3 linked regions of the Homo sapiens genome follow. The protein of the gene in region 3 interacts with the protein of the main gene of each other region in a pairwise test. Each region holds a gene or a part of one and is shown on either strand. Other genes may lie near its edges. The genes, in order: CAGE1, DTNB and TXLNB.

Region 1 (2,452 bases), about 130 Mb from region 3:
AGTGCTTGCCAGCATACCTGGCTAATGTTTCTGATTTTTAGTAGAGATGAGCTCTTCCTATGTTGCCCAGGCTCTTTATTTATTTATTTATTTTATTTGAGACAGAGTCTTGCTCTGTCGCCCAGGCTGGAGTGCAGTGGCACGATCTGGGCTCACTGCAAGCTCCGCCTCCCGGGTTCACACCATTCTCCTGCCTCAGCCTCCCGAGTAGCTGGGACTACAGGTGCCCCCGCCACCACACCTGGCTAAGTTTTTGTATTTTTAGTAGAGACGGGGTTTCACCATGTTAGCCAGGATGGTCTCGATCTCCTGACCTCATGATCCACCCGCCTCGGCCTCCCAAACTGCTGGGATTACAGGCATGAGCCACCGCGCCTGGCCACCCAGGCTCTTTTATCTGCGTTATAATTCCAAAGGATTTCAGAGTTGGTGTCTTTTAAAATTTGGTTGGTATTATGAAGAATCTGCCTGCCTGGACAGAAAAAGGATGTCCTGCAGAGGAAATAAAAAGTTGAAGTGAAATCCATGACTATTTTTGTGCATCATTAAAGGCCTGATAATATGGGAGTGGTATTCTGTGAGAATATTTGGTCAAAAAACCACTGTATTCTTCTGTTTATGTTAAATAGAATATATTTGATTATTCACAGGAAGAAATTAGAAGAAAAGTAATCACATCTTTGGAATGTAAGACTTTACCCTTTATACAGATTTTAATATATCATCTGCATGGATTGATTTGGCTAGCATATGTAGTAATGACTCTTCCTGGAGTGGTTGACAAAAATGATTACTGTTTAATCTTCAGGCTTGTTTAATCTAAATCATTTCTATTTTCTTTAAAAAGAGCTGGCATCTAAAAATGAAAGGAAAAATGTTTCGTAAGTTTTGGGGAAAGACTAACATTCAGTGACAGAACCCCTAAACAGCCAATTTTTTATTACATATGGAAAAGGGGTGCAAAGTAAGCCTATAGATAGATGAATTCCACAGATAATACCAACACTATATTTTGTTTGTTTGTTTTGAGACAGAGTCTCACTCTGTTACCCAGGCTGCAGTGCAGTGGTACAATCTCGGCTCACTGCAAGCTCTGCCTCCCAGGTTCAAGCGATTCTCCTGCCTCTGCCTCCCAAGTAGCTGGGATTATAGACACTCAACACCATGCCCGGCTATTTTTTGTATTTTCAGTAGAGACGGGGTTTCACCATGATGGCCAGGCTAGTCTCGAACCCCTGACCTCAAGTGATCTGTCCACCTCAGCCTCCCAAAGTGCTAGGATTATATTTTTGATAGAGATGGGGTTTTGCCATGTTGTCCAGGCTGGTCTCGAACTCCTGACCTCAAGTGATCCACCTGCCTCAGCTGTGAGCTCAGGTGTGAGCCACCACACCTGGCCCCCAACACTATATTTTAACTGATATTTTTGTTTGTTTGTTTCAACCTTTTTCCCACTAAGGAACACCATGAAGAACAATGTGGATTGAGTTTCATCTTCCTTGGTTTGGTTGGCAATTGACAGATGTAGAAAAAGGAATAGAAGCAAGAATCTGAATAATCCAAAAGTGATTTAGCAGCATGGCATAGTTAAAAATTGATAGTATTGGCTGAGCGCGGTGGCTCACGCCTGTAATCCCAGCACTTTGGGAGGCTGAGGCAGGCGGACCACCTGAGGTCAGGAGTTTGAGACCAGCCTGACCAACATGGAGAAACCCCGTCTCTACTAAAAATACAAAATTAGCTAGGCGTGGTGGTACCTGCCTGTAACCCCAGCTACTCGGGAGGCTGAGGCAGGAGAATCACTTGAACCCCGGAAGTGGAGGTTGCAGTGAGCCGAGATTGCGCCATTGCACTCCAGCCTGGGCAACAAGAGTGAAACTCCGTCTAAAAAATAAATAAATAAATAAATAAATAAATAACCATTGACAGTATTAAGGCACCCTCTTAGTTCAACTATGAGAAAAGCTGGGTCTCAATGGCAGCATATGGAGGCATGCCCTATTGAGTGTCCCCTCATCCCCAAAGCTATGTTACAAATAGGCCACGGCATTTATGAACATACCCATGTCCTGGAATGGGACAGAGGTGGCAGCAGCTGTGTCTGCTGTTTGGGATCACTCCAGCAAGTGTAGCATTGGTCCTGGGTCCCAAGTCTAACATTCACTCCTATTTAGTACCTTTTATGAGATAGGTACTTGAGGATATCAAAATGAATATGAGACAATTCCTGTACTCAAAGAGTTCTAGTCAAGTCAAAGGACATGCAAGCAGAGAACTGTAATGCTGTGTCATAGGTGCTATTACGTCAAAGGGTATAGTGTGAGCACATGGGAGGAAGCAAGTCAGTTCCATTTGGGAGACAGAGCAGGAAAAGCTTCAGAGAGGAGGCAGAGCTTGAGCTGACAGGCGTTTGTGAGGTGGGAACTGAGTAACTGAGAGAAAGAGTTGGGGA
Region 2 (3,660 bases), on a different chromosome or scaffold from region 3:
GCACACACGCACCTGTAATCCCATCTACTTTGGAGGCTGAGGCAGGAGAATTGGTTGAACCCAGGGGACGGAGGTTGCACTGAGCCAAAATCGCACCACTTCACTCCAGCCTGGGTGAAAGAGTGAAACTCCATCTCAAAAAAAAAAAAGAGAAGACGAAAAGAAAAAGAAAAGAAAAAGTTTAAAATTTCAATGAAAGCCAGTTTATCTGTTTGGTTTTGTTTTTACATATCATGGTTTGGGTGTTTTCTTAGAGAAATTTTATAGTTTTAGCCCTTATAGTTACTATGATCCATTTTAGTTTTAGCTCTTATAGTTACTATGATCCATTTTGATTTAGTTCATATTTATTTGTATCATGGAAAGATCTCAGAAAGCATGCTAAGTGATTAAAGCAAATTGCAAAGTGATATGAGCAGTACAATACCATTCATGCAAAATTTAAAAGCGTGAAATACCATCTATTATTCATAGCTATACATGCACATATAGGTTAAAAGTTTCACAGCAGAATTTTGATAGGGGTTGCCTCTGAAGGGAGGAGAGGAAAGAACTGGAACAGGAAAGAACTGGTGGACAAAAATATTGCAAATTTTTCTGCAATATTTTTAGGTTGAAATACATTTGACACAATATGAAGTTACCAATTTGGGGTGGTTAATTATGTTGTACTTTTTAGTTTTCTGTATTTTTTTTAACTTCTCAAAATACACATACACACACACACACACACACACACACACACACACACAAATGATTCAAAGTAAGAACCACAGAAAACAATCCATTTCTGTTGAGTTTGGTGGCCACACGGTTGAAGCACTGCGGTGGGGTGTCGTGCGTCCAGCCTGTCCACCTGTTCAGGGCCAATTCTGTTTGTATATGGGGTTTCTAGCTGAGAAAGCTAGAAGAAGGATAACTGTCTTCATTTGAATTCACTCTCACACTTTGGCTTCTATTTTTTCCAGTTTTGCTTCCACAGAAAACCCTAGTCCACCTTCCACACTCAGTTCCCGTTGTGCTGAAGAGCTACAGAGCCCACATCTCAGTGAGCGGCCCTTGATTAGTTTTCTCCTTTTATTTATTTTATCCCATTGCTCCAAACTTTCTCCACAACTATACCAGGGCCTCCCAAGGAAAGCTTGGTTTCTGTTTACCATGTGTCCTTTCTCACCTCGTCCCCGCGGGGTGGCCCCGGACAGCCTTGCTGTACATGTGCAGTGCATGTGGCATGACTGGCCCCATGGCCCCGCTTGCAGCCTGCAGCCGAGCTCCGCACATGCTCAGAGCATGCCCTGCAGGAAGTGGGGTCACAACCTGCAGAGTGCACACTGCCACCCTTGGAGTCAAGGGGTTGTTCCCATGCCTCCCACTGGCAAGCTGTGTGGCCTGACACAACGTCTCTTTCCATTCTTCTTCTTCTATAAAATGGACATAAAAATATATACCCTGGCTTGGTATGGTGGCTCACACCTGTAATCCTAGCACTTTGGGAGGCGAAGGCGAGCAGATTGCATGAGCTCAGGAGTTAAAGACCAACCTGGACAACGTGTTGAAACCCCGTATCTACTAAAAATACAAAAAATTAGCCCAGCGTGGTGGCGCACACCTGTAGTCCCAGCTACTCGGGAGGCTGAAGCAGGAGAATCTCTTGAACCTGGGAGGCGGAGGTTACAGTGAGCTGAGATCGTGCCACTGCACTCCACCTGGGCAACAAAGCAAGACTCTGTCTCCAAAAAAGATATATACGTATATAAATATATACATACACACACACACACACACACACACACGTATGTCCTTTCCACTCACAGGTTGCCGGCAGCAGCGGGGGGAGGGGTCCAAATGAGAACATGTACATGAATGTGTTTGCAAACAAAATGAAAGCTGTTTGCATGTTACTTCCTGCCCTGCAAGCCAAGCCCTTCTAGAGCCCTGGCCCAGTCACGCAGCTCACTCTGTCTCCACCACTCTGTGCCAGCCTCTTCTTTCCCTCCCATTCTTGGTCTTGTTCTTAGGATGTTCTCTCTCTCTGCCCTGCACGCCCCCTTCCTTTTTTCCTTTTCTTCCTCTCTCCAGTCTTGGAAGCAGCCTAACTCCTTCCTTTCAAGTATGATCTTGTACCACTGAACTGAGGCCCACTGGCTGGCTCTGGTTGATGGAGAAAAAGTACTTTCTTCCTTCCTCAAAGAGGTCAGGTACTTGAGATAACGTATTTTCTGTCTTTGAATCTCCAGGCTCAGGCCACAGGGTCACCACATACATCGCCCACCCATGGAGGCGGCCGGCCAATGCCCATGCCAGTGCGCTCCACGTCTGCCGGCTCCACCCCCACCCACTGTCCGCAGGACTCGCTGAGCGGAGTCGGGGGAGACGTGCAGGAGGCCTTCGCACAAGGTGAGTTTCTGGAGCAGAGTTCAGCGGGGAGCTGAAGGGATGTGCAAACACGGACAAGATTCCTGCTGAGGTTTTTTCCATTTCTGTTTTGTGCTCTTTGCTTGGAATGATCAGATTTTGACAGACAGTGTAAATAAGTCAGGTGCTGGCCCCTTCTCATGAGACGGGCTGGTCTCCAGCGGGAGGGCTGCAGGCTTCCTATGTGTGCCAAGAACAGGCCTCCTGGGGTTCTCTGCCCTTTTTTCTGGATTATTGGAAGTGCTTTGTCCTTTGGGCTTTGTCTCCTCCAGAGGAATTGGATGGAATAATTCCCTGGCCTAGAAGGGACTGTAACAGGCACTGTAACTGGGACCGTGCTGAAAGCACAGTATGCACGCCATTGTCACAGTCATCGGGGGAGCTGGTGACCAGCAGTATTAAGTAGTTGGGTGGGGATTCAGAGGGAAGTCCTGCTGGGGCTGGAGGTGAGAAGGGGAGGTGGTAGTGGTGGTTGTGGAGAGTACAGCCCCACCCCCACAAGGCTGAGGAAGACCTCGGTGGAATGCTTATTCTGGAACCCAGCTCTGGATTGTGTGGTGGCGGCAAAGCGTGGAGTTGACAGGATGCTGCTCCCTAGGTAGAGAGGGCAGAGGGAGAGGGACCAGTGGGCTGGTGCCTCCTGCCCCCGGTGTGCCTGGGAATGGGTGGAGCTGCTGTGGCCCCATCTCCCCTTAGGTGTTCCACACCTGTGTTCTCGGGCCTGGCAGAACTGAGGCATTTGCTCAGCCGTCTCTTCTCCACGCTCACCCACCCTGGCATCCCCATCTGCTCTGCCTCTCCTCAGGTACGAGGAGAAACCTCCGCAATGACCTGCTGGTGGCAGCTGACTCCATCACCAACACCATGTCATCCCTGGTGAAGGAGCTCCATTCAGGTGAAACCCAGAGCTCCCAGCCAGCTTCCTGGCCTCCCCTGCCTTGCCCGCGCCCTTCTCACTTCCTTGCCAGCACCGGCAGAACCTCACCACCCAGCTTGCACCACCCCATTTCATCACCTAACTTTGCCTTCTAGGAACACACTGGATGTCTCCACCCAGAGAGCCTCTGTCACACAGGATCGCGTAGGGGCGGTTTCACATTCAGGCCTATCTCAGGAGTGCATCTTGTGGAGCAAGCTGAATGTAGAGAAATTCAGACCTTTCAGTGCAGGCAGGCCCCTTCCTCACTTACCTCGTCTTCCATCTGTACTTTGTCCACAGCCGCTCTCTCCCTAGGCCTGACCGAC
Region 3 (3,660 bases):
ACCAAAGCAGAAGGAAGCCTGACCATCTTTCTTTCCCAATGAACAGGGTATGGTGATTAAAGAATCTACCAGTCTAGTACACAATGCCAAAAAAAAAAAAAAAAAAGGAAAGTGATGTCCATGACCAAGCATCTGTTCAGCCCCTACTCTGTAGCCAGGTCCCAGAGCCTAGTAGACAAATTCTGGGACAAATAGTTTTGCTTGTTTCCAGAAAGCATCCTGGACATTTTGCTTATCATGTCATTTCATCTGTGTGTGTATGTGCGTGTGTTTTCACATCACAGAAAGCACTGAGAGCTAAAGAATATGAGTGCTTTGTGATGAAAATCGGGAGGCTAGAGAACCTCTGCCGTGCTTTACAAGAAGAGAGAAACGAACTCCACAAAAAAATCAGAGACGCAGAAATATCTGAAAAGGATGACCAAAGTCAGCACAACTCCGATGAAGAGCCAGAGTCAAACGTCTCTGTGGATCAAGAGATTGACGCAGAGGAGGTTAATAGTGTCCAAACCGCCGTGAAAAATCTGGCCACAGCCTTCATGATAATTCATCATCCAGAGTCAACCCCGCACCAGTCCAAAGAAACCCAACCCGAAATAGGCAGTTCTCAGGAGAGTGCTGACGCCGCTCTCAAGGAGCCAGAGCAACCCCCTCTGATCCCTTCACGGGATTCAGAGAGTCCCCTGCCTCCCCTAACTCCTCAGGCTGAAGCCGAAGGAGGCAGTGATGCTGAACCTCCCTCCAAGGCCAGTAATTCTCCTGCCGGGTTGGGAGCAGAAACCCAATGCGAGGGTCTCCCTGTTGGAGCACAGGCTGATCAGGCGTCCTGGAAGCCAGAGGCAGAAGCTTCCGGTCAGGCCCCACAGGCTCCCACCGAGGCCTCCCTACAGAAGATGGAGGCAGATGTGCCTGCTCCAGCATGCGCAGCAGAAGAGCACGTTGCAGCCATGGTGCCTGCATGCGAGCCCAGTAGGCAGCCCCCACGAGCAGCAGCAGAGGAGCTGCCAGTAGGGGCCTCAGCTGGGCCCCAGCCGCGCAACGTGGCTGACACCAATCTGGAAGGCGTCGACTAAGCCTCACCGTGCCTTCAGAGGCTTCTTCCTGCCTCTTTGCATATTCAGCATAACAGCTTGTCTTCCGAAAAAGGCATTAAGGGCTAGAGATGTCAAATGGAAGAGACTTAGGATCAAGACATTTTTTAATGTTAGGCAGAACACATTCATTCAGACTTTGCTATTTGTTGTCAATTTATAGCTGATTTGAAGGTTTTCTATTTAACACTGGTTGACAGTATAATTTTCCCAAAGGGCAACAAAACATACAGATAGCAAATTTATATTCCTTTTCTGTTAAGATAATACTTAAATTTGTTAATCACCAGTAAGATTTGATGTTTAAAGACTTCCACTGCAATATATAAATACTGAAAATGTGATGTTCTGCTTATTTGGATATATAGTTTAACAAGTTCCATAGTAATTTATGGATGCCCAGGTTACATTTAAACTATACATATACATAATATATACATACGTGTGTACTTATTATATGTATATATACACGTATGTATAGATGTGTGAATATTTGTTTATATACATATATGCACGTATCTATATGTATATATAAATGCATTATTACACATACATTTCTCTCACCCCTTAATGCATTTTTCTCAATGCAGAATATTTAGATGCTAATCAAAAAAATGATCTCTTACTTGCACTTGAGACTATGGTTGACTAATGCTCTATAAATCCGAAGAGAGTTCGGACTATAAGTATTTAGGCTATCATTATGTTGGGCAAAAATAAGTAACCCAATGGTAGATAAATGAATTCAACCAGTTGATCAAATGGCAGAAAAGCAGTTAGACTACAATCTGTGCAGACAGCATGGACACAAAGATGACCACAAGGGGCCCAAAACAGAAAAGAGAAACACAAGCTCACCTCTTGGAGCTGCTTCTCCTACACTTCTCAGCCCATTGCTTTGCCACCCCCTCATGTGCCAGGGCATCCCATTCCAGGCTTCCTGCAAGGAAACGGTTGGAAGTGGGAAAGGGGAGCTAGGGATTGAGGGGTTAAGGGACCTCACACTAAGAAGGGGCTGTGCTTTGATCCCCTGCCTCTTGCACTACCAATGTCTCAAGACATAATATTCATCTCTTGCTGTCAGACCCATTCTATATTCTAAAAGCTTCTGCTCCTTCCTTCCCAATTTCTCCTTTGTAGCAGGAAATTACACCCAGCCCTCATCTCAATTAATGCTAAATAAAGCTATTGTTTTTCCAAAACACAAATCTACACTGGGTCTCAATATCAGTGATGAGGCTTACAAACCAACACGTTTTCTGCCATGAGGATTTCTCTTTAGGCCAGAAGTACAAAACAAAAAAACCAATGGATTTTAACCAAAATGATTTGAAATATAGGTGAGGATTCAGGAGAAGGCAAAAGCTAGAAACACTTGGGGTTGTCAACATGAGTATTACATTAACATTGCTTGATGAGAACCTCTAATGATACTGACAACATAAATTACCTAGGGTAAAGGATAGCTGCAACAATGAAACAGGAAAGAAGAGAGGGAGAGAGAGGAAAGGGAAGGAAGAAAGGAAGGAGGGAGAAGGGAAGAAAGAAACAATGTCTAACCCAACCCTATCTTGAAAGTTGAACTCAAGTAGAAAAATGGATAGAAACAAAATTCTCTAGTACTCATCCAGGAAACCATTCTTCAATGTTGCATGTGGCTGTTTGCCAAGGCACACAAAGTGCTTGTAGGCAGCAACCATATGCTACAAGAATTGTAAACTGCATACAGTTTGTTTGAAGTAGACAGTGAGGATAATAACAAAGTTGCTAGGCAGGAAAAAAAATCAGGAAAAAAGCTTGTCGCTATTTGAGAATCTGTATATTTTTAAAGGCTTAAAATATTATAACCACAGGGTATCCAGCCAAATTCAACATTACTGCAAGTCTTAGAGATTTAAACATTCATTTGATTCAGAGCTAAATATTCACCATAATCCAGGAGGGTCTCCTTCCCCACTGCAGAGGCAGAACGTCCAAGAATGGAGTAAGATTAGTCATAGTAAAGTCTCAGTCTGAATATTTAGCAAGAGAAACAGGCAGCAGAGGAACCCAAAGGCAGTAAATCAAATATTCTAAAACCCAAAGTTCATTATTTTCATCCAAAAGACTTTCACAGAAACACATTACTCACAGCCATGTATATCTTGGACAGAGTTTCAGATGGAATGACTTGTCTGAAATTTGTAAAGCTTAATATAGGTTTTGGGGGAATTATTTTAATATTCAAAGAATGTTTTATTATAGTCCTTTGTGTTAAAATTTAGCCTTACTAATTATAACAATAACTCATAAAGTTCTAAATTCAGAAGGAATGTCTGTTCTTTATCAAGTGTATGTAACTATTTTTTAGAAATGCCATCTACTTTCTAGAAACACTAAAGTTATTGTTTTCTAAGTTAAATAACTATAATTTATATATCTATTAAAAAGGTACTTCTCTTCCCAAATTCTCTAGTACTCATTTTATTTTTTTAACTTTGACTTATTTTATTTTTGTTTTTATTACTTCTATGTTTCGACAATACCTAATGAAAATTATGGTTTTATTCTGTAGTTTATTAAGTTTTTG

What was found.
Region 1: the proteins of TXLNB (region 3) and CAGE1 interact in binary tests that used the Homo sapiens proteins (3 or more experiments, as listed by UniProt).
Region 2: the proteins of TXLNB (region 3) and DTNB interact in a two-hybrid assay, tested with the Homo sapiens proteins (one large-scale study listed by IntAct).

The regions. Positions count from the first base shown.
Region 1 is NC_000006.12:7,326,044-7,328,495, forward strand, and holds the end of CAGE1 (cancer-associated gene 1 protein), read right to left. Parts: intron 857-2,452; coding exon 815-856; 3' UTR 616-814; downstream 1-615.
Region 2 is NC_000002.12:25,386,939-25,390,598, reverse strand, and holds part of DTNB (dystrobrevin beta), read left to right. Parts: intron 1-2,237; coding exon 2,238-2,397; intron 2,398-3,220; coding exon 3,221-3,310; intron 3,311-3,447; coding exon of another isoform or gene 3,448-3,500; exon of another isoform or gene 3,501-3,660.
Region 3 is NC_000006.12:139,239,939-139,243,598, reverse strand, and holds the end of TXLNB (beta-taxilin), read left to right. Parts: intron 1-284; coding exon 285-1,073; 3' UTR 1,074-3,538; downstream 3,539-3,660. UniProt on the Homo sapiens protein: Promotes motor nerve regeneration. May be involved in intracellular vesicle traffic.